Linked DNA regions of Homo sapiens. The protein of the gene in region 2 purifies or fractionates together with the protein of the main gene of each other region. This does not show direct contact. Each region holds a gene or a part of one and is shown on either strand. Other genes may lie near its edges.

Region 1 (3,500 bases), on a different chromosome or scaffold from region 2:
ATGGTGACTCACGCCTGTAATCCCAGCACTTTGGGAGGCCAAGGTGGGCAGATCACGAGGTCAGGAGATTGAGACCATCATGGCTAACACAGTGAAACCCCGTCTCTACTAAAAAATACAAAAAATTAGCCAGGTGTGGTGGCGGGCGCCTGTAGTCCCAGCTACTCGGAAGACTGAGGCAGGAGAATGGCATGAACCCAGGAGGCGGAGCTTGCAGTGAGCCGAGATTACTCCACTGCACTCCAGCCTGGATGACAGAGCGAGACTCCATCTCAAAAAAAAAACAACAACCATGAAACTACCCAAATTAATCATTATTACTATTGTTCTAAAAAGCCAATGCTAACTGAAATGAATTGTCTTTGTTCACCATACTTTCTCACATTTATATTCCTTTCATTTTCTTCTTCCTGAAGTATACACTTAAGTAGTTTCTTTTTTCTTTTTTTTTAGAGATGGAGTCTCACTCTGTCACCCAGGCTGGAGTGCAGTGGCACGATCTCAGCTCACTGCAGCCTCCGCCCCCTGGGTTCAAGCTGGGACTACACGCATGTGCCACCATGCCTACCTAATTTTTTTATTTTTAGTAGAGATAGGGTTTCTCCATGTTGGCCAGGCTCGTTTCGAACTCCTGACCTCAAGTGATCCACCCGCCTCGGCCTCCCAAAGTGCTGGGATTACAGGCGTGAGCCACTGTACCCAGCCTCCTTAAGTAGTTTCTTAAATCAGTTTGAAAATGATTATTATTTCACCGTCATTTTTGAAAGACTGTTCAGTAGGCACAGAATTCCAGGTCAAAAGTTACTTTCTCTTTGAATTTAAATATTGGAGCCTGAGTACAGTGGCTCATGCCTGTAATAGCAACACTTTGGGAGGCTGAGGTGGGAGGATCACTTGAGCCCAAGAGTTTGACACCAGCCTGGTCAACATAGTGGGACTCTATCTCTACCAAAAATTAAAAAAAATTAGGTGGGCATCATGGCATATGCCTATAGTCCCAGGTACTCAGGAGGCTGAGGAGCTGACCCCAGGAGGTTGAGGCTGCAGTGAGCTGTGATCACACCACTGCACTCCAGCCCAGGCAACAGGGTGAGACCTCCGTCTCAAAAAAACATGTAATAATTTAAAGATAAAAATAAGGATTTTAGTTCATTGTCTTATACTGTACTTCAAAAATCTGTTGTCAGCTTACTGGTCCTTCCTTTCTAGGTAATTGGTCTTTTCACTTGGAAGCTTTTAGCTTTTAAGATCTCAGGTTTATCCTTGGTGTTCTCCAGTTTTACTTTACAACATACACCTAGATGTAGGTTTCTATTAATTTATCTTGTTTGGGACCTTGCTTTCTTATGCTGAGAAATTCATATCCTGGAAATTGCAGTCATTATCATTTTCTCTCCTGGAGAGACTAGAAGCTGGAAGTGCCCTTCCCTCTTCTCTCCTTTTATCTATGTATGTTGTGTACTGGACCTTCTCATTCTGTGTTCTATCTTAACTTTGTCTTTCTGTGTTCCATTCTAGGTAATCTACTCAGAGCTGTATCCTCAGGTTCTCTCATTTTGTCTTCAGTTACGGGTATTAACCCCTTATCAGATAAGTGGTTTGCAAATAATTTTTTCCCAGTCCGTAAGTTGCCTTTTCATTTTGTTGCTTTGTTTCCTTTGCTACACAGACACGTTTTTTAGTTTGACGTAGTCCCATTTATTTATTTTTTTGTAGCCTAAGCTTTTGGTGTGATATCCAAAAAATCATTGCCAAGGTCAATGTCGAAGAGCTTATCGCCTATGTTCTCTTCTAGGATTTTTATGGTTTCAGGTCTTAACATTTAGGTCTCTTATCCATTTGGTGTTGATTTGTGTAATGGTGTAAGATAAAGATTAAATTTACATTTTTTTTTTTTTTTGAGACAGAGTCTTGCTCTGTTGCCCAGGCTGCAGTGCAGTGGCACAATCTCGGCTCACTGCAACCTCCGCCTCCCAGGTTCAAGTGATTCTCCTGCCTCAGCCTCCCAAGTAGCTGGGATTACAGGTGTGCACTACCACACCCGGCTAATTTTTCTATTTTTATTAGAGACGGGGTTTCACCATGTTGGCCAGGCTGGTCTCAAACTCCTAACCTCAGGTGATCTGCCCGCCTCAGCCTCCCAAAGTGCTGGGATTACAGGCATAAGCCACTGCATCCGGCCAAAGGTCCAATTTCATTTTTTCTTGGAGACAGGATCTTGCTCTATCACCCAGGCTGGAGCACAGTGACACAATCACAGATCATTGTAACTTCAAACTCCTGGGCTCAAGCCATCTTCCCGCCTTAGCCTCTAAGTAGATGGGACTACAGGCGTGCGCCACTATGTCCAGCTAAGGTTTGTATTTTTTGAAGAGACAGGGTCTTGCCATGTTGCCCAGGCTGGTCTTGAACTCCTGGGCTCAAGCAATCCTACCTCGGCCTCCGAAAGGGTTGGGATTATAGGCGAGGGCCAACCAATTTCATTCTTAACACTGACGCGTGCTAACTTCTTTAGTGTACTTTGCACAGCACCTCTTGAACTCATTTGGTACTATCATAACATGCAGGGCTTCATACAAGAGAGTACTCACCTGTAAGATGGGCGCCGTGCTAGGATCCCGTGGGCTTTCTGTGAGGAGCCTATGCTGTCGGATGAGTCCTGGGACTCCTCACTTTCTGATAAAGATGATACCTAAAAAAGAACTGGCATTAACATGATGAACAATGCAGGTGGGAAAAGAAACAACTGAATTTTTACTTTTAGAAAAAAATGATCTGTCTCCTGCCACTCCAATTCATTTGTACATTAAATCTAAAGTCTAAAAGAAAGGAACAAAAGGAAAAGGAAAAATGAGAAAGTTTATTCCAGGAGCCCAACCTATTAAAGGAATATCAAATATAGCAGGCCCAGAGCTGAGAATAAAGTCTGTCCCCCAAATGAAGCAGTACTATTTTACCAGAGTTAAAAAGACCAGGCTCTGATGTCATTCTCCACCCTATTTCTACACTGATGCACATTACTTAAAAGTGTTGTTTTATTACTAATCTACCTGACATGCTAAGTTTGAAAAACCTGTTATATATTCAACTGCTGACATTGAGACGAATATTAAATATACAAGCCTGTAGGTCTGGGAAGAGGTCTGGGCTAGATACATAAATTTTGGAGGTCTAGCTTTTTAGAGTCCTTAAAGCCATGAGACTGGATGAGCTCATAGGGGTAAATAGAAGAGGACTGAGGACTAACCTCAGGAACACTAAGAGACTGGATGAAGAGGAGGAACCAGCAAATGAGACTAAGGAGTCACCAGTAAAGAAGAGAACCAAATGATTGAGCTGTCCATGGAAAACTAGTGAAGACAGCATACTGAGGAGAAAAGAATGATCAACCATGTCCAATGCTGTTTACAAGCTGAGATAAAATAAAGACTGAGAACAGACCATTCGATTTAGCAAGGTGGAGGTCACTGGCAATGGCAGGTATAAATATATGCCATTTT
Region 2 (2,782 bases):
TTGCTCCAGCAATATGACTGTACAAGAGGGATTCCTGATGTGGTCACTCATATAGAGTTGAATTTTTTTTTTTTTTTTTTTTTTTACTAGTTATTACTGACTGTAACAAACTTCAAGAGTGGTTGAAGCTGGAATGTTTATAACTAATATAAACCAGATGAAAATATGAAAAGTGAAATTATAATTAGTGATCATAATAAAATGTCATACTTATTCTGAGTGGAAATATTGGGGAAAGTATAGAATATTTGAGAAAAAAACCCCACACCTTCAGGATAGTAATACTTGCTTCTTACATTTTGACTTTCACATCAGGCCTTCCTTCCTAGGAATCAGAGTTCAGACAGAGGAGAGGTCTCTTTGGGCTGAGTTTCAGGAGTGACTTTAGGATACATTTGAATTGAGCCTTGAAGTCTGGGGAATGCACCGGGGAGCATTAAGGAAAGGAAGCCCAGGGCAAGTCAACGTCACAGGCAACTTGCATGGCAGGAGGAAACTGCAGGGCATGTTTGGAAAAACAAGTCTTCTAGTTTGGCTAAAGCATGAATTTTGTGGAGTTACGAGTTGGACAAAAAGGATGGAAAAGTAAGTTGAGCCAGATGGAAGACAGCCCTGAAGAGCAGGCTAAAATTTATTCTGGAGGCAGTGGGAGGCTGAAGCTTTTTGAGCAGGAAGTGTAACTTGCCTAAGGCCATCAGGTCAGTCTGGTGGCTGTGTAAGCAGCAGTGAGTGTGACTCTGAAGACATATCATGTATCAGTTCACTGATTGCTTTTCCTGCCAGATATTTAAGAGCATTCTGTTGATGTGTAAAAGCCACCCAGTAAATAGTTGAATAGGTATGTGCTGTTAATGTACCCTCTCTCCTTCATTTTCCTCACTGAAACAAAATGTACGGACCAGGTGACTCTGAGGCTTCTTTCAGTTATAAGATACTATGTAAGTTTTTTTTTTTCTCCTCACAGAATTTACTGTTTGGAAATTGGTAGTTTATGATTTGAATAAGTGAATTTTCACTTCCTTACATGAAGATCTATGGTCACATTTAAAGACAGTAATATTTGATTGATTAGCTTTGGTCCAGTTTCTGCCTATTAATGTATTATTCTACATCCAAAGCCATGCTGGAGAAGGACTAATTCAAGATGGAGCAGAGGCCTTGACTCTACTTCTTGGTGGACATGCCACCCTTGTTCCATGGAATGAATTCCCCTGGTCAGGGATGCTGGTCCCAGAAGTCCTGCTGTACTCTTGAGTGTTTCAGAAGTGGTTTCTTTGCCTCTAAATGTGAAGAGTGTAGGCATCAGGCATCTCTGCTGTTGACATAGTCACTTTCTTCAAACCATTATTAAAATGATGTACTACTGCATAATTTCACAACATGATTGCTGCTTAGGTGGAGGGAAACTGTTGCATAAAGTTTTTAAAAGGTTGACTTTAAATTTGTCTGTTGTACTCATTCATTATATTATCAGGTTAATAATTTGTCTTATTTTGTCTTCTTAATCTAGGTATTAGAAGGCAAAGCAAAACTCCCAATGGATAAATCAGTGCCTGGTGTTCTGAAGTGGGAAAAAATAGACTAACTTCAGTAGGATTTATGTATTTTGAAAAAGAGAACAGAAAACAACAAAAGAATTTTTGTTTGGACTGTTTTCAATAACAAAGCACATAACTGGATTTTGAACGCTTAAGTCATCATTACTTGGGAAATTTTTAATGTTTATTATTTACATCACTTTGTGAATTAACACAGTGTTTCAATTCTGTAATTACATATTTGACTCTTTCAAAGAAATCCAAATTTCTCATGTTCCTTTTGAAATTGTAGTGCAAAATGGTCAGTATTATCTAAATGAATGAGCCAAAATGACTTTGAACTGAAACTTTTCTAAAGTGCTGGAACTTTAGTGAAACATAATAATAATGGGTTTATATATGTCATAGCATAGATGAATTTAGAAACAATGCTCCTACTGTTTAAATACATATGGACACATCTGGTGCTGAGAAAGAAACAAACACATTACCATTGGTGTCAAGAAATATTACTATATAGCAGAGAAATGGCAATACATGTACTCAGATAGTTACATCCCTATATAAAAAGTATGTTTACATTTAAAAAATTAGTAGATAACTTCCTTTCTTTCAAGTGCACAATTTCATTTTGACTTGAGTCAACTTTTGTTTTGGAACAAATTAAGTAAGGGAGCTGCCCAATCCTGTCTGATATTTCTTGAGGCTGCCCTCTATCATTTTATCTTTCCCATGGGCAGAGATGTTGTAAGTGGGATTCTTAATATCACCATTCTTGGGACTGGTATACATAAGGCAGCCGTGAAACTGGAAAGTCATTTTGATGACTGATGTGATACATCCAGAGGTAAAATGCATTTAAACATATTAAAGTATTTGCCAAAGATACAATTTTCTTGCTGACATAAAAATCACACAAACAAGTCCCCCCCAAACCACAACTGTCTCTCAAATAGCTTAAAAAAATTGAAAAACATTTTAGGATTTTTCAAGTTTTCTAGATTTTAAAAAGATGTTCAGCTATTAGAGGAATGTTAAAAATTTTATATTATCTAGAACACAGGAACATCATCCTGGGTTATTCAGGAATCAGTCACACATGTGTGTGTGTCTGAGATATAGTCTAAATTAGCAAAGCACATAGTATTACATACTTGAGGGGTTGGTGAACAAAGGAAAAATATACTTTCTGCAAAACCAAGGACTGTGCTGCGTAATGAGACAGCTGTGATTTCATTTGAAAC
Region 3 (3,500 bases), on a different chromosome or scaffold from region 2:
AAATGTGGCAATATATTAATAATGGGTGATTGTAGGTGAGGGGATTATGAATGTTTTACTGTTTTTCAACTTTTTTTTACATTTGAGAATTTTCAAAGTAAAATGTTCTAAGCAAAAACAAAAGATTTCATAAGAATTTTCAAAATAAAATGTTCTAAGCAAAAACAAAAAGATTTGATAAAAGTATAAGATTTGATAAACAGGAGGAGAAATTCTGTTCTGGATGTATAGAACAATGTCAACAATACCTAGGCTCCCTGACTCACATGAAACATACATATATACATACATACATACATACATACATACATACATACATACATACAAGTTTAAAAATAAGTCTCTTGCCTAAGATAGTATTCCCACTATCTTGGATGGTGCCCTCCTCCACAGGGTCTCACTGAGTGTTACAAAAGCTTCCTAGTCATTCCCTCACTTCCAACAAAGGTGTCTTCCTCCAACATAAGTCTGGTCACATTCATAGCCCACCAACTTAATATTGTCTGATAAGCCACTTTTTCCATATCATAAAATCCAGGAAACTTCATTCATCATGCAAAACATTTCACAATAGCGGTCTGACTTCTCCCTCTACCACACACACTTGCTTTAGGGATACAACTTATTCTCATTCTCCAAAGATACTAGGCCCTTTTGTGATTAAACACATTTGCCTGTGCTTTGACTTCCTGGGCCTTTTATCACTCCAGACATGACCGCCATGCCCTTTGTGAAACTGTAGTGGACAATGTCTGTACTCTATCAGATCCCCTCAGATCTGTTTGCATTCTCTCTTGTGCCTCCTAGCTTTCTCTTCCAACAGCAATTGCTGTAGGTCTTTCTAAGAAGACGATCCTTGGGCTCTTGAAGCCACCCTTGCACACATGCTGGGAGAGCAGTTAGTGTCTGGGAATTTGTGTCCCCTGAGACAACCATGACACAGAGACTGATGGAAGCTAGAACAGTGTGAAAGCCCTAGCTCCCCTAACTCAGGTAAGGACAGCTCTGAGGCCTAACTCACACTGCAGCACACCTCTTACTTGATCAGGCTAAAGCCTTCCTTCCCTCTGTAGAACTTTACTGAGATTGCATGTCTAGCTCCTACTCCAAAGCTGAAAGCTCTTTAGGGGCTCAGAACATGTCCTTGGTCTCTGTACAGTTTACTGCACTGCACAACAAATTAATCTCAGGCCTTACAATATTTATAGAAGAGTATGACAAAAGCAAACTGAAGTCATTAATCCCTAATGATTAACTTTCAAAATTTTTAACATATTTGGGTATGCCAGTCATTAATTTATTTTACTTACCAAGATTTGAACCGCAGCTGCTAAACTATCTAAAGGAAAGTCTGGAAGTCCAAGAGTAGAAGATTCTTGGGAACACAGAGTTGTGGCAAAGGACAAGAGCTGAGAAACTCTAAGGGAAAAATGATATTAAATTTTAATAGTTTTAAAATATAAAATGTGTAAGTTGTTAAATATAAAATACAGGGGCCAATTTAATTAATCTAAAAAAGATCCCTAATATTAATTCTTAAGGAACAATGGTTCCGCATCATAATATCCTACTTAAAACTCAGAAGCTGATTAGATGCAAATATATTCCTAAATTCATCACAATATTTGAGGTTTTTCACCACCTGGTCCAAATCTACCCTGCCAGCCTCATCTCTCACATTTCGTAATCCCAAACCTAAACTCTAGCCTCCAAGAGTTTTTTATGGCCCTAAAAACAAGGCATAAACTCTCACATTCCATGCTTTTAAAACAAACAAACAAACAAAACAAAAAAAAAACACTTGTTGTGTTCGAATTTCTTGATTCCACTCTCTATCTGGCAAAAACTTGCTCATTATTTAGGACCCATTTCAAACACCAATGCTTTTATGAAGCCCTTATAAAGTCTCAACTAATGCCCCCAAATATTTTCAAATTATGGCACTTACTATACCATGTTAACCAAAGCTATTCACATATCTTTCAACTCTATTAGATCTTGAGTTTCCTGCCAAAGATATCTTATTAATTTTATCACCAAACATCCTAATACTGAAAAATTCTTATAAGAATTCTAGTTGTTGAATGACTGAATTAATTAATCAATCAATCAATGAACAGGCAAAACAAATTCAATATTCAGTGTCCAGACATTTATAAAAATATACTTACTTCTCAGCAGAAACATTGGCTCCAATTGAATATAACAACTTAAGTTGGTCCTAAAGTAATACAGAAACATATTAAATTAATTAACAAGAAATGTAACAGATTAAATGCAAATGTTTTGTAGATACAATCCAACCTTTTAATTAAGCAGACACTAAATATTTAACAGCAAAAAATCATTTATTGATACATTTCATTTTCTAAAAGAAAAGCCAGCCTTTTAAAAAAAATCCTTCAAATAATGCCATAATAATTTTTCTTCCTAGTTTCCAGAGCTTTTCTTTACTCTTTATTCTCATATCTTTCCATGACCTACTCAGGAAGACATTCAAAACTGCAGTAACATTTTTATAGCATTGAAGTTCTTGTTATAAATAGAAAAACTGTTTAACAAATAAATTATCCTTGGTCTTACTTACCTTGAAGGGTAAATAATAAATATCCCTGGCTTGAAATCGAGAACGAAGAGGGGGGTCTAATGGATTCCCAGAATACCTTGGCACTGGCAAGCCCAAGGCAATCACTCGGAAATTTTCACTAACTCGGACAATTTTCCAAGAATCCAACTCTTTTTTGGTATGATCCTATAAAAGTAAGAGATCCGGAAGCTATAGCATAAATGATACAAATCACAACTGTAAGAGCTGCCAAGTCCAGGGACTTAGGACTTGACTGTTGAGAAAACTGTATTGGAGAACACTCTCAAATCCATACTGTCAAGGAAGGCAGCAAAGTGAAATCAGGTTCAGGATGCCAGGGCAGGCTCACAACATGAAGACTGGGGTGTTTGAAAGGAAAAGCAGTTAACACACCAAGGAATAAAGGAGACTTGGGTCAGATCTCCAAGCCTTAGTCAGTAACACAGAGGAAAACAGTCAGGGGGTAAGGAAAATACATGACTAGAGGTTGTAACAAAGGTAGTCCCCGACGGGCAGATCACCAGCAAAGCTGTGATTGATTACCAGTGGACCTTAAATAGATAATTATGTTTATGGTTATTCCTAGCAAAGCATATTACTAGCAATAACTAACATGTTTTGGAAACTTACTATGTGGTAAGCACATTCCATGGATTTTTCTCATTTAACTTTCACCAGAATCCAATATAGACTATCTCCTTTTTATATGAATGAATGAATCAAAGTTCAAAGGAGTTATATAACTTGCCCATCGTCCTGCAACTAGCATACAGTGGAGCTTAGAGAATGGAAACAGTATGGGTTTTAGAGTCACAAATCCTGGCTCAACTGCTTGATGTACACTTTTACTAAATGTTAGCGTATGCATGGTATTATACCTTTGGAACCTTAGCCTTCTTAGTAGGAAAAATAT
Region 4 (3,500 bases), on a different chromosome or scaffold from region 2:
GTTCTCCAAAAAACCTATTGAAATTAAAAATTAAAGACAAAGAGTTTTTTTTTAATGTATGCTGATAATTCTGAAGACATTTATCCTTTATTTTAGCAACAATAGAAATTTGCTATGGATTTGGTGATGGGGGCAGAGGGCTTGGAACATATGAAGAGATTGAAAGCTATTGAGGTTGTTTAAATTCAGAACAAAAAGGAACATGTGACAAGTGAAATTGAAGGAACAGAAAAAAAGTATTCTTGTCATCCCTTGTGGTAAGATTCTTACTTGGCTACTTCAAGAGGTGATATCAAAAGCACATGATATGAGAATAGTAATGGTGGCAGGAAATGGGGGAAAAAACTTTCTCTGGAAGGAGCAAAGTAAGGGAAGGAGAAAGAACAGAAAGAGAATTACGTATCAGAGTTTTCTTCTCCTTCCTAAGGTATATTGTCTAAACAGTAAAAACAAAAATTTAGTACATGAAGCTGCCACAGTTTAGTCATAATTAGAGAATATAAGGTAGTTATTCAAGTTCTTCATAAATATTCCAGATTTCCTGAATAGATGGTAGGATTGCCCTTCCCAGCTCCATCCAAAGTCAAGAATGACCATGTTACTTGGTCAATAAAATATGACCAGAAATGTCAGTGTTCAATTTCTGTATCTTTTGCCCTGCTGTGATGATCATGATGGCATGTGTCCATCAGCCTGGGTCCCTGGGTGACTATGAAGAACAGTCATAGTCTGGCAGCCTGCTGCCAACTCGCATTGAACTATATAACATTAGCAAGAACAACTTTTCCTGAGTTAAGCCACTGAGATTTTGGGGGGTTGTTAACTGCAGCATAACCTAGCTTGACTAAAACAGAAATTGGTAACTAGAAGTAGGGTACGGCTATAACAAAATCCTAATTGAGAAGGAGATTATGAACATGTAGCTCTTAGGGTAAGCAATTTAGAAGACATGATGTTAGTATTGTGCTTTGATAACTGTTGGCATTGTCTAAAGCAAGTTATTTTAAGACAGGTGTATGTAGGAGAGAATTAGTAGTTTGCAGGCAGGAATGAAAGGGAATAGATTCCTTGCATACAGGGACTCACAGGGTTGAAGGAACAACTGTTTCAACCCTAAACTATAAAAGGTAATATTGATGAATGGTTTGAACAACGACAAACAGTGAAAACTCGACCTCGCAGCAAGAATGAACTCTTTGGTTAAAACCCGAGTGTATTAAGATGTCTCAAAGCTAGAGTTCAACTAAGGATGTAACACCTAGTAAATCCTTGCACTTCAACAAAATGGCTTGTAGAAAAATGTCCAAAATGCATGGCTCTTCCATCAGTGCCTGATAAACTCAAGCCACTTGCAATCAAATAGACAGAAATATAAGGATAAAACCACAAAGAATTATAGCAAATCTTAGTAGTATATCTATAGAAAAGAACTGTAGTATGGCTATTGGTACATGAAACCAAAAGAAATCAAACAGAAGCAGAATAAATTAATCTTACAGCCAAAGAAATCACGAGCCAGAACTAAAACCATTCAACTGAGATAAAACCACCCTTGGGCCTCCAATCTTCTGTAAGTAGCAAGCTTAGAAAGCTGCTCGGTTGCCAAGGAAGGATTATTCTCCAATGCCTACTCCAAACACTGCCAAGGAAGGATGGGCCTTGGGAGTAACCAAGAGCCCCAGAAAATGAACGAGAGTTCCTCCAGGGAAGAGTCCCATGAGTATGTTGGGGGCCCTTACAACGTCTGCCCATGAAGGTCTCAGAATTGCTACAGGCCAATAACTGTTTTTTTCTCCCTTTATGAATAGAAATTTCAGTCCCTGCTTCAGCACTGTAAACTGGGGAGGGAGGGGGAAAAAATAAAACCTCTGTATTTTTGGTTTTAAGTCTCAAGATCACAAGAAGCTACATCTGGACCCAATATAACAAGTACTACACATAGCCCAGAAATCCTAGGCTTTGAGTTTGATTACACTGAATGGGACATTTTAGGATGCCTCCTTTGAGACAGAAACAAGTATTCTGCCTATGAGAGGGAGGGCAAGTTGAATGATATAGTTCTTAGCGCTGTTAACATGTTTCTTTTTGCCTTCCAGCACAGAAAAGTTAAGACTCTTCAGTGGGACCTGCTCTGGCCAGTGAAATGGAAAAGAAAGTGACATGTATCACCTCTAGTGGAAACTCTAAGAGCCAGTGCACCATTTACCGAATTTTATTTCCTGCCTTGGCAATTGTGGATGAATTTCCATCAGCCTAAGTACCTGAGCAAGCCCTTCTACAGACCTCTACTAGACATGTAGCATAAAGGAGAAGCAAACTTTTGTTATATTGAGTGAGATGTATCATCCATTCTAATAAAAAAATCATAATAAAACCTTCTAAAAGATCATTACTGCCTATGTTAGAATATCTCTAAATATATTAGTTCCAGAACACGAGTTAATTTCTGTCTCAATTTCATCTTCAAAATGAGAATGATACTAAGCCTCACAGGGTTGTTCTGATTTAAATACATTTATATGTATAGCTCTTAACAGTGCCCTAGTACATAGTAGGAGCTATAACTCTTTGCTATTATTAAATACCTACCAAGTTTGCTGTAGATGCAGTTGTGCTATAAACACCTGAAGTTTCATAGTCTGGCTCTAGAGAATATAGCCAAAGTAAAAAATGAGCATTATTTTATAGCTTGAAATTCTATAAACAATGATGAATGCCAGATCACTTCTAGATCTTACTGACCTGCACGATAAAGATATTCTTCATGATATCGCCCTGGGGAAAAAAGACAAGACAGAAGAAATGTGTTTATATAGGTCTTTTTAGCTCAGCAGAGCCAAATGGCCAGCACTTGCTTTTTCCACCAGTTTTATGGTTATATGTTCAAAACTAAAATGCATACATCCTGAAAAGTGATATGAGCTTTCACACTAGTCAACAGATATTGAAGCCACAGACTAGCTGTAAGCTGTACAAATTTCTCCTCTGAAAATCCACTTAGCTCTTAGAGGTCAGGCAGAAGTGAAAACTCAGTTGTGTCCAATTTTTCCAGTGAGGCTACAGTGTGGTGATTAAGCACATAGGCTCTGGAGTGAGGACTGCCTAGATTTGAATTCTGATTAACTACATGACTTTAGGCAAGTTATTTAATCTCTGTGCCTCAATTCTTCACTGTAAAATGGAGTAACAGTACCTAGCTCATAGGCCTTTTGAGGATGGTTAATGGAAGTGAAAGTAACTTAGCATAGTGCTTTACACATACTAAATACTCAATGGTGTCTATAAAGTATGAGTATAATCCACTGTTTCCTTAGGTGGACATTAAGGGAACATGTATGCCTCATCTGTTTTTCAATCTGTTTCATGTAAGTAATACATGTAAAATGAGTGTGTCCTCAAAGGATGGCTCAGTAGACTGAAGTACTTTTAAGATTTCTGTACCACTGAAATGCAGAGAAAGTCAATACTCAATCGGACAGTTTTCCACCAAATATAAACCC
Region 5 (3,500 bases), on a different chromosome or scaffold from region 2:
GTAGTCCCAGCTACTCGGGAGGCTGAGGCAGGAGAATTGCTTGAACCCGGGAGGCGGAGGTTGCAGTGAGCTGAGATCGTGCCACTGCATTTCAGCCTGGCGACACAGTGAGACTCCATCTCAAAAACAAAAAAAAAAAGATGATGCAGTCATGGGTGTGGGTTAGGTAAGTGTGAAGGAGTCAGTTTTTGCTGGTGGCAGGTAATGGACTTTTACACGCTTAATATCAGAATTAGAGTCACTTCATAATTTTCGTTGAGAATTAGCCAATATTGCTTGCTTTTTAAGTTTTTATGTATCTTAATATACTCCTTAAAAATCTCTCAAACAATAGTTTCTTGGAAGGGTGTCATTCCTGACTCCCTCCTCCACTGCCTTCGTCAGCTGTTATAACAGCGCTGTGGAATCATGGTAGATAGTGGTAATCCACGGTCCATTTGATTCTCCCTCCACTGTGTTTCTTAGTCTCCCGAGGATCTCAGGACGTGCAATGATTCAGAGCTTTATCTCCTCATTTGCAAAACTTTTATATTTAATAAAGGAAGCTATCCCTAAAGAGAGTTCAATTAGCTCATCACTGTTCTTACTCAAATTGTACCTAACAATTAAAGTAGTAACATAGACGTCTTCAGAATTAAATGAAAGCTAAACATGAGAGTGCTTTAAAACACATGAAATTAGGGCAAATGCGTAGCATTATCACAAAAGATGCTACCTCTTCATACCTCTGACTTGGAGTACTTAAGGAAACCAAAACATTCTGTGTTTGTCCAAATATGGTATTCAATTCAAATTTATACCATATGGTATTCTCTGACTAGAAACTTGTGTCAGTTGAAGTGTCTGCCTAAAACAATAATATCCAAGAGTGACTTGTTATAACCAATAAATTTTGTGTTCAGGGAGAAAAGTCATTACTACACCAAAAAAGGAAGGTTGACCAAAAACTGGTATTACTTTTCAAGTGTGATTATGAAAAGCTGTTGTAGTAGAACAGTCATGGCAGGTAGTTTGTGCTCTGAAATAACAGAGCTTGTCAGGATTTGCCAGCTTTTATCTTTTCCTTTAGTAGATTCATTCTTAAAACCAAACCTAATATTTTTCGTGCTGTAGTGGGAGAATCACCTGAGCCCAGGAAGTTGAGACTGCAGGAAGCCATGATCACACCACTGCACTATAGCCTGGGTGAGGGGAGTGAGACCCTGTCTTCAAACCGCAAAAAACAAAGATCCACTCTTTTTGTTATACAGTTCCACGGATTTGGACAAATGCATAATGACATGTATCCACCATTACAATATCATGCCAAAGAGCTTCACTGCCCTAAAAATCCCTCCTCTACTCTCCCCAAAACCCTGACAACCACTTCTCTCAACTATTGCTAGATCCTCGGCTTTTCTGGCATGTCACATAGCCAGAATCATACAGTATTTGCTTTTTTTCAGATGGCCTTCTCTCCCTTAGCAGTATGCACTTAAGGTTTCTCCATGCCTTTTTATAACTTAATAGCTCCTTTGTGGTTTTGGTGAATAATAGTCCATTGTATGGATGTATCAGAGTTAGATTATCCATTCATGTATTGAAGGACATCTGGGTTGCTTCCAACTTTTGGCATCATGAATGAAGCTGCTTTACATGCTCTTGTGTAGGTTTTATGTGGACATAACATTTCATCTCAGTTGGGTAAGTTAAGACTAGGTTTAGGTTTGTAAAAAGCTACCAGAACATCTTCCCAAGTGGCTGTGTACTATTTTACATTCTGCCAGCCATCAATGAGAGTTCCTTTTGCTCCACATCCTCATCATCATTTGCTGGTCAGTTTCTTGGGTTTTATCCATTCTTGCAGGTGTGTAGTGATATCTTACTGTTTTAACTTGCAGTTCTCTAATGACATGATACTGAGCATCATCTTATGTGCTTTTTGCCATCTGGTTGGTTTTTGTTTTTGTTTTTTGAGACAGAGTCTTGCTCTGTCATCCAGGTGGAATGCAATGGCACGATCTCTGCTCACCACAACCTCCACCTCCTGGGTTCAAGCGATTCTTCTGCCTCAGCCTCCTGAGTAGCTGGGATTACAGGTGCCCACCAGCACGCCTGGCTAATTTTTTGTATTTTTAGTAGAGACGGGGTTTCACCATGTTGGTCAGGCTGGTCTCGGAACTCCTGACCTCGTGATCCGCCTGCCTCGGCCTCCCAAAGTGCTGGGATTATAGGCGTGAGCCACCGCACCTGGCCCTGCCATCTGTTGATCTTCTTTGGTGAAGTTTCCAGATCTTTTGCCCATTTTTTTTATTTGGGTTGTTTGTTCTCTTATTGCATTTTAAGAGTTGTTTGTTTTGGATACAAGTCCTTTATCAGAGATGAGTTTTAGAAATATTTTCTCCCAGCCTGTGGATTGACTTTTCATTCTCTTCACAGTATTTTTCACAGGACAGAAGTTCTAAATTTCAATAAAGCCCAACTCATTTTTTTCTGTCATGGATCATGCTTTTGGTGTTGTGTTTAAAAACTCATTGCCAAACCCAAGGCACCTGGATTGTCTCCTGTGGTATCTTGTAGAAGTTTTATGGTTTGGCATTTTATATTTAGGCCTGTGATTCATTTTAAGTTAATTTTTATTAAATTTGTAAAGTCATTGTACAGATTAATATTTTTGCATATTAGTGTCCAGTTGTTCCAGTGCCATTTGTTTGTTGAAAAGAATATCCTTTTTTCCTTGAATTGCTTTTGCTTTTTTATTACTGTAACTTTAGAGGAGGTCTTAACGTCAGGTAGTGTCAGTCCTGACAATATTGTTTGACTTTTCTAGGTCTTTGGCCTTCCTATATAACCTTGAAAATCAGTTTATTGATATCCACAAAATAGATATCAACTAAAATCAAACTTGCTGAGATTCTAATGGATTTTTAAAATTGTAAAACACATGGAACATGAAGTTTATCATTTTAACCATACAATTGTGTGCGGGCATTTTTAACTTCATACTCCAGTAGTTCAGGGCTGCTGCAGAGGAATGCAACTAGCTTTTTATATACACTAACCTTATATCCTGCAACCTTGTCATAAATGCTTATTGGTTCTAGGAGGGGCTATTTTTATTCTTTGGGATTTTCTACATAGATAATCATGTCATCTATGAACAAAAACAGTTTTATTCCTTCCCTTCAAATTTCTATGCCTCTTATTTTCTTGTCTTACTGCATTAGCTAAGACTTCCAGTATGATACTGAAGAAGAGTGATGAGTGGGGATTTCCTTGTCTTGTTCGCAATCTTATGGGGAAAGCTCCTAGCCTCTCCCATTAAATCAGAGATTTTGTGTGTTGTTTTTTTTTTTTTTAGCAGGTTGAGGAAGTTCTCTATTCCTAGTTTGCTGAGAGACTTTTTCATGACTGGGTGTTAGATTTTGTTGGATGCTTTTTCTGCACCTATTGATTGTATGATTTTTTCTTTAACCTGTTGACGTAATAGATTATATTATTTGATTTTTTAATATTGAACC
Region 6 (3,500 bases), on a different chromosome or scaffold from region 2:
TAATACATGTTAGAATGTTAGCTATCTCCTAATATTAACCTTTTTTGGAATAAATTAGGAGATGACTTTGTAACATGTAATAAAAAGAACAAAACCAGACAAAGAACTCTGAGTACTAACTAGCATTGCATACTATCTGAGAAGTCTTTTCATTCTGGCATTTAATTTGCCTAAATTTAATTACACCATCTTTCCTTGAAGAATCCAAGATACAGGCACAAGAATGTAACTCACCTGTTTAAGGCCAATAGCTAATTATTGGAGGAACTAGAAGCCAATCCTTCTGAAACCTAGCCCTAGCATTCCTACAAAAATGTATGCTAACAAATCCTAAATCTACTACCTCTAATTTGGTTGGTGATGGGTATATTCCATTTCAAGATAAAAGTAAATCAAATGTTTCTTTCTCACATACAATATACCCAAAAACCATGCTAAGTACTATAATGAATAGAAAATTTCAATTAAAAATATTTAATAAATATTTATTTTGCTAGGCAAGAATCTGTAATATCCAAGGCTCTATCTGTCCTTGAAACACCCCAGTGTAACCCACAGATCTATCTTCCATGGAATTTAACAACTCACCTTTCCCACAAGCTGTACAATTTCTGCCAGGTCTTCTTCTTCCTGCAGAATTTCCTTAGCTTTCGTCCTCAGAGGAACGAACTCTGTGAAGTGTTTGTCATAGTATTCATCCAAGGCACGCATATACTTGCTGTAGCTGATGAGCCAATTGACAGAGGGGAAATGCTTACGTTGAGCTAGTTTCTTATCTAAGCCCCAGAACACCTGATTAAAAAAAACACACACACAAAAACAGTAATTTTTCTCAAAAAACAAAGTTAAAAAATACCGAAGCATGTTTGTCCCAACTATGCAATTCTTTTTTTTTTGTTTTTGAGACAGAGGCTTGCTCTGTCACCCAGGCTGGAGTGCAGTGGCATGATCTCGGCTCACTACAACCTCCACCTCATGGGTTCAAACAATTCTCCTGACTCAGCCTCACCAGTAGCTGGGATTACAAGCATGCGCCATCAGGCCCGGCTAATTTTTGTACTTTTAGTAGAGATGGGGTTTCACCATGTTGGCTAGGCTTGTCTCGAACTCCTGACCTCATGTGATCCCTGGCCTCCCAAAGTGCTGGAATTACAGGCATGAGCCACCATGCCTGACCCCTAAATATGCAATTCTACAATTCACTGGTCAAATTATACATCGTTTTAGTATATACTAAGTAAAATTAAAACAGAATAAAACTTGCAGAAAATGACAATAATCTATTTCCTTTCATTTTCCAAGTGCATAATACCTACAAATCGAATTTAAAATTTACCTCTATTTTCTTAATACTGTGCCAAATCCAAAAGCAAAAAGAAAAATTAATTTACTCTTTTGAAAATTATTATGGTACAATAGAACCAGAAAAGGTTTATGTAGATCGAATACACACTTTACTTTGATTAAAAACCTCTAACTGGCCAGGCATGGTGGCTCACGCCTGTAATCCTAGCACTCTGGGAGGCTGAGGCAGGTGGATCACCTGAGGTCAGGAGTTCGAGACCAGCCTGGCCAACATGGCAAAACCCTGTCTGTACTAAAATACAAAAATTATCCGGGCGTGGTGGTGGCGCATGCCTGTAATGCCAGCTTACTTGGGAGGCTGAGGAGGAAGAATTGCTTGAACCCGGAAGATGAAGGTTGCAGTGAGCTGAGATCACGCCACTGCACTCCAGCCTGCATGATGGGGGTGAGATTCCATCTCAAAAAAAAAAAAATTTTTTTTTTAACTGTTCTGGGCCAGGCATGGTGGCTCACGCTTGTAATCCCTGCACTTTGGGAGGCTGAGGCGGGTGGATCACCTGAGGTCAGGAGTTCAAGACCAGCCTGGCCAACATAGTGAAATATTGTCTCTATTAAAAACACAAAAAATTAGCCAGGTGTGGTGGCGGGTGCCTATAATCCCACCTACTTGGGAGGCTGAGGCAGGAGAATCACTTGAACCCGGGAGGTGGAGGTTGCAGTGAGCTAAGTTTGTGCCATTGCACTCCAGCCTGGGCAACAAGAGTGAAACTCCGTATCAAAACAAACAAAACAAAAACATCTAAGTGTTTTGATTAAATTTAGTTGCCTATCATTCACAGGGCCAATCCAACAACAACTGACAGTGATTTTTGTAAGGGCAAACATTCACAGATATTCCATGCATTTCTAACTCTGTTCCCTCTTTCCCCATAATTTAAAACTCAAAATTTTAGCAAACGTTAAAAAGCTTGAGAGTTGTACATTTAGCCTCTGACATTTCCTTTTCTCTGATACTGTCAGAAACACAAGTAAATATTCTGTTTTTCCCACATGAATAATATACACATATCACTTTTTTTTTTTAACTATAGCTCTGATTTGTACACATCTTTTATTTGGGCTTCTTTTAATAGCCAAGCTGGCTACCTATCCACTAAAATTCATGTCTTGTCACTGGAAAGCAAATGCTTAGGCAGAAACTGCATTTTCCAGCCTTGCTTTCACCTGGATGTGGCTAATAGAATGAGTGGAGTGACTGTGTCACTTTTGAATCCAAGGTTCAAAAAAGGTGGGTATGCCTTCTCCACAAGGCCCAGCTCCCTTGTGTCAGCTAGATGCAGATGATCACCAGGCTAGGTGACAGTGGAGTCACAAGATGGAAAGAATCCTGGACTCAGAATTATCACTAAACAGAAGAGAGCCTTGGATCATACTGTGAAGTGAAATAACTTCTGGGTATTACACATTTTTGGGCCTCTTTGTTTCTATAACTAGGGTTACTATGACTTAAAGGATAATACTACTCTAATACTAATAAAATTTTTGCTACCTATATTTTCCACTTATATATTATTAAGTTTATTATAAATCCTATGTAAACAGCTAAGAAAAAAACAGACAGTATTAAAGGCTCTGTGTTAAGAGTGTTTCTAAACCAGACTTTACCATTGCCTATCCTTTAGAGACTAAATTAAATACTTCACAACGATTACATTAGATCGCATTAGAACAGCAGGGGCTGCAGAGAGGAGGAAAGGCTCAGAAGTTGACTATACTAGGGAAAGACATACCTGAACGATACCAAGAGTGGCAGATGTAACTGGATCAGAAAAATCACCACCAGGTGGAGAAACTCTAAATTTAAAAAAAATATGGTCATTACAAAAAAAATGGTCATTAGAAATGCTTATGAAAAATAACATATATATAAATGTTAACTTTTTTTAAAGTCGATTTTAATGTAAATAACTTTTTAATGTAAATAACTTTAGAAATGACCTTTGGAAAGAAAATCTTACCTAAAAATCTTAAACAAAAGCCAGTATTTAAGTTGTAAACAACAATAGAAACTACAGAACACCTTCTATTATGAGACATGAGATAGATATTTTATTATAATCAATTTTATTATTCTAATCAAATAGATGAAGCAAGGAGGAAACGCTCTAAGAAAAAAGTATGGCTTTATGTAGTGA
Region 7 (3,500 bases), on a different chromosome or scaffold from region 2:
AAATGCAGGCCCAGTGAATCTCCCCATGCCTGGACACAGTTCCGTCAAGCCAGGACCCGGTGCTGCCTGCACCCCTGTTTCTGTTAGTCTGACTGTCCTCGCTGAGTCTAACTCCTTGAGGGCAGAGAGGATGTCTTATTTATTTCTGCCCCGCTAGCCGTGTAAACTGAGTAGGTACTTGTAAATGTTCATTGAATAAGTACCTGATTAATAGAATTTAATTCAAGAAGAATGTATTGATGGGCCTGTGTGGTCACCACAGTACTGAGATGTAGGTGGGAGCTGGCTGAAGGGGGAGGCACCTAAACAGGAGTGCAGACAGCGGCACCTACGGATGATGGCCCGCTCCATCCCACCGCAGCGAAATTGTCCCAGACCTCTGCAGCTTCCCCCACACCTAGACTGAGAGAGAGCTCTTCTTCCTTCTGTAGGGAGCAGGTGTTTCCTCCAGATGTCCAATATGTACCTCCCATTACAGCGGTGTTAGGAAGGTGAGGGCTGCCGCTGAAAGGGTCCCCTTCATAATCATCACTAGATTTGGGGTATATTATGGATTAAATAGAATTTTTATAAGATGACCTGAGGATCTATTTAAATAAAATCCTCTTTCTTTCTGCAAGATCATGGATTTAAATTCAACACAACTGACTTCATAGGGAAGGGGTATGGTGAAAGGGAAGTGAGGTGGGCAGCACTGATATTTAACAAGGTGAGGGTCCTTCTCCTGCTCTGACTGTCACATTAAAATATTCCCAGGAGAAATTGGAGAAAACTCAGATGAAATATCGTCTGTGTTCCAGGAGGCAGGACTCATCGGAATGCTTTTATTTTGCTCCATTTTAAGAGATTTGCAGATAAAGAGGAGTGAAGATTTCTATTCAGATTTACTTGCTTTATATTTTAACTTATAGACCACAAGCCAACTTTCGAAAGAGCATCATTTTGAATAGTAAGAGTTAGGAAGGCAAATACAGAAGGACTAATGGCTTCCAAGATTATGAGCTTCATAGGAATGGTTTGAGATGAGGCTATAGTAAAGCAGAATATTGAAGTTCCCCCACCCCCTTTCATTTTTCATTTTTCATTTTTAAGAGTGAGCGAGGCCAGGCGTGGAGGCTCACACCTGTAATCCCAGCACTTTGGGAGGCCGAGGTGGGCAGATCACAAGGTCAGGAGTTTGAGACCAGCCTGGCCATCATGGTGAAACCCTGTCTCTACTAAATGTACAAAAATTAGCCAGGCTTGGTATCAGGTGCCTGTAATCCCAGCTACTCAGGAGGCTGAGGCAGGAAAATTGCTTGAACCCAGGAGTCGGAGGTTGCAGTGAGCTGAGATCGCACCACTGCACATCTCAGAAAAAAAAAGAGTGAGGCCCCAAGTTTTTTTGCATTTGTTTGTAACTGAATACGTCTGAAGTTATGTGATAACCACGCCAAGGTGACAAATTGCCAAGTTTCAGTAAAAGAGACCCAGTTATTTAGAGGTTGACACGTGGATATGTCCCTTTCTAAGAAGTTCGTGGTCAGCTTTACATGAGTATTTAAATGCGTGTTTATAATTCAGCAATATGGCTTGTAAAATACAGATTGCCAATCAAGTGACATGCAAATCTTGATGATCTGAAACAAGTTTTCTTCTGTTATCTATGGAAGAAATGGTAATAGGGATATTTAAGTGGGATGAATTTTTTGAAGCATTTTCAGGCAGTTTTCCACATGGAACAAAATAACATTGAGTGGGCTGCTAACATGAGGAACATATTGCCCTCTGCCTAGGATTATGAGTAAATTTGATAAATTCTAGACTGCAGTCTCATTTTAGCTCATTTTATGAGGCAGCTTGACAACTGGGATAGTGTCTCTTTTTTTTGTCGGGGGTGTTGAGGCTGGAGTCTCGCTCTGCTGCCCAGGCTGGAGTGCACTGGCGTGATCTCGGCTCACTGCAACCTCTGCCTCCGGGGTTCCAGTGGTTCTCCTACCTCAGCCTCCTGAGAAGCTGGGATTGTAGGCATGTGCCACCACGCCCGGCTAATTTTTGTATTTTTTAGTGGAGACGGGCTTTCACCATGTTGGCCAGGCTGGGTCTCAAACTCCTGACCTGAAGTGATCTGCCCGCCTCAGCCACCCTAAGTACTGGGATTACAGGCATGAGCCACCACACCTGGCTTCTGTTCTATCTGTGCATTGGGGATGAAATTAACACAAATGATGTTTAAAGAAAAAAATGCTCAGAGAAGTTAGAAATGTGCTTTAAATTGGAATCATCTCTTAGTATGTAAAAGTTTTTTGTAATAGAAACAAGCAGGGCAGTATTTGACCTGTTGACAGTGTCCTTGGACTTTACAATTTGTGAAGCAGCGTATTTTGCTTGAGTTGTACGATTGTCGTTTTTTTCCCCCCACTTTGACAACTGTTACAGAACCTGTCACCAGATACAGGCAAGGGAGGTTGGGCTTCCCATCTCTGCACGGCTTCCCTGTGATTCACAAGCAAGCAATCAGAAGTGCACAAAAGTTTAGAACGCGATTTTCATTCTCTTCTTTCCTTAGAAAAACTCGCTTTGTTAGCCTTTTCCAGAAAGGAAGGCACTCAATTGTTGTAATACTCAAATCATAAAAAGAAGCCTAGTCTAGTCTATTCAGCAAGGTGTTCTGAAAGAGGGAATTTTTTAAGTTCAATTATGCGAAGATCTTGAAGGTGGGACTCAAAGGAGAGGGCTATCCTGGGAAGAAGGCTTTGGAAAATGAGAGGCATGAAGGGGAGAGGGTATTTAAATGTGTTTGAAGCCAAGGATCCTTGAGAGAAAAAGCTGGCACTAACAGCGTTCAAAGAACTTGCGTGACAAGTGATGACTAATGACACTGAGGGTGGGTTGTGGGTGCCTAGTGAATTCCTCCGAAGCCAAGAGAGAGGTTTCCAGACCCAGGGAAGAAGGTGTGTACACCCAGAAGTAGTGTAGGGACAGAGATTCCGATCACAAGCTGTGACTGGAAGACGCCGACCACCACTGCAGCAGCCTGAAAACCACAGTCTTGAACCGCCAGCGAAGGGCTGGGAAGTGCGGATCCAGGGCTGGTGCACTGAACCCAGAGGAGCAGGCTCCCATTCCCAGCTAAGGGTGGCAGCTGGCGGGGATCTTTCCAGCAGAAAGCTGTAAGTGGAAGCTTTCAATTCAGAGCAGTAGCAATGCCTTCAAAGTCCCAGGCTTCACGTGGGAACAGAGAATGTGAAGAGTATTTAGCAGGATGCCAATATAAGAAATCTATATTGGTGTTCGTTTGTTTGTTTTTGAGATGGAGTCTCGCTCTGTCACCCAGGCCGGAGTGCAGTGGTGCGATCTCAGCTCACTGCAATCTCTGCCTCCTGGGTTCAAGCGATTCTCCTGCCTCAGCCTCCTACATAGCTGGTACTACAGGCACGCGCCACCATGCCTGGCTAAATTGTTGTATTTTTAGTAGAGATGGGGTTTCACCACGTTGGCCAGGCTGGTCTCAAACTCCC

The links.
Region 1: the proteins of LOX (region 2) and ATF1 purify together in Homo sapiens (co-immunoprecipitation; one large-scale study listed by IntAct). This does not show direct contact.
Region 3: the proteins of LOX (region 2) and VWA8 purify together in Homo sapiens (affinity purification with mass spectrometry; one large-scale study listed by BioGRID and IntAct). This does not show direct contact.
Region 4: the proteins of LOX (region 2) and ALG13 purify together in Homo sapiens (affinity purification with mass spectrometry; one large-scale study listed by BioGRID and IntAct). This does not show direct contact.
Region 5: the proteins of LOX (region 2) and ATP5F1C fractionate together in Homo sapiens (co-fractionation; one large-scale study listed by BioGRID). This does not show direct contact.
Region 6: the proteins of LOX (region 2) and ATP6V1A fractionate together in Homo sapiens (co-fractionation; one large-scale study listed by BioGRID). This does not show direct contact.
Region 7: the proteins of LOX (region 2) and PPARA purify together in Homo sapiens (co-immunoprecipitation; one large-scale study listed by IntAct). This does not show direct contact.

Annotation. Positions count from the first base shown.
Region 1 is NC_000012.12:50,795,101-50,798,600, reverse strand, and holds part of ATF1 (cyclic AMP-dependent transcription factor ATF-1), read right to left. Parts: intron 2,704-3,500; exon of another isoform or gene 2,693-2,703; coding exon 2,592-2,692; intron 1-2,591.
Region 2 is NC_000005.10:122,065,478-122,068,259, reverse strand, and holds part of LOX (protein-lysine 6-oxidase isoform 1 preproprotein), read left to right. Parts: intron 1-1,510; coding exon 1,511-1,517; 3' UTR 1,518-2,782. UniProt on the Homo sapiens protein: Responsible for the post-translational oxidative deamination of peptidyl lysine residues in precursors to fibrous collagen and elastin. Regulator of Ras expression. May play a role in tumor suppression. Plays a role in the aortic wall architecture.
Region 3 is NC_000013.11:41,884,610-41,888,109, forward strand, and holds part of VWA8 (von Willebrand factor A domain-containing protein 8 isoform a precursor), read right to left. Parts: intron 2,753-3,500; coding exon 2,588-2,752; intron 2,222-2,587; coding exon 2,172-2,221; intron 1,420-2,171; coding exon 1,311-1,419; intron 1-1,310. UniProt on the Homo sapiens protein: Exhibits ATPase activity in vitro.
Region 4 is NC_000023.11:111,729,670-111,733,169, reverse strand, and holds part of ALG13 (UDP-N-acetylglucosamine transferase subunit ALG13), read right to left. Parts: intron 2,776-3,500; coding exon 2,743-2,775; intron 2,646-2,742; coding exon 2,590-2,645; intron 1-2,589. UniProt on the Homo sapiens protein: Catalytic subunit of the UDP-N-acetylglucosamine transferase complex that operates in the biosynthetic pathway of dolichol-linked oligosaccharides, the glycan precursors employed in protein asparagine (N)-glycosylation.
Region 5 is NC_000010.11:7,791,177-7,794,676, forward strand, and holds part of ATP5F1C (ATP synthase F(1) complex subunit gamma, mitochondrial isoform L (liver) precursor), read left to right. Parts: intron 1-3,500.
Region 6 is NC_000003.12:113,795,535-113,799,034, reverse strand, and holds part of ATP6V1A (V-type proton ATPase catalytic subunit A), read right to left. Parts: intron 3,160-3,500; coding exon 3,096-3,159; intron 793-3,095; coding exon 589-792; intron 1-588. UniProt on the Homo sapiens protein: Catalytic subunit of the V1 complex of vacuolar(H+)-ATPase (V-ATPase), a multisubunit enzyme composed of a peripheral complex (V1) that hydrolyzes ATP and a membrane integral complex (V0) that translocates protons.
Region 7 is NC_000022.11:46,157,026-46,160,525, forward strand, and holds part of PPARA (peroxisome proliferator-activated receptor alpha), read left to right. Parts: intron 1-3,500. UniProt on the Homo sapiens protein: Ligand-activated transcription factor. Key regulator of lipid metabolism. Activated by the endogenous ligand 1-palmitoyl-2-oleoyl-sn-glycerol-3-phosphocholine (16:0/18:1-GPC). Activated by oleylethanolamide, a naturally occurring lipid that regulates satiety.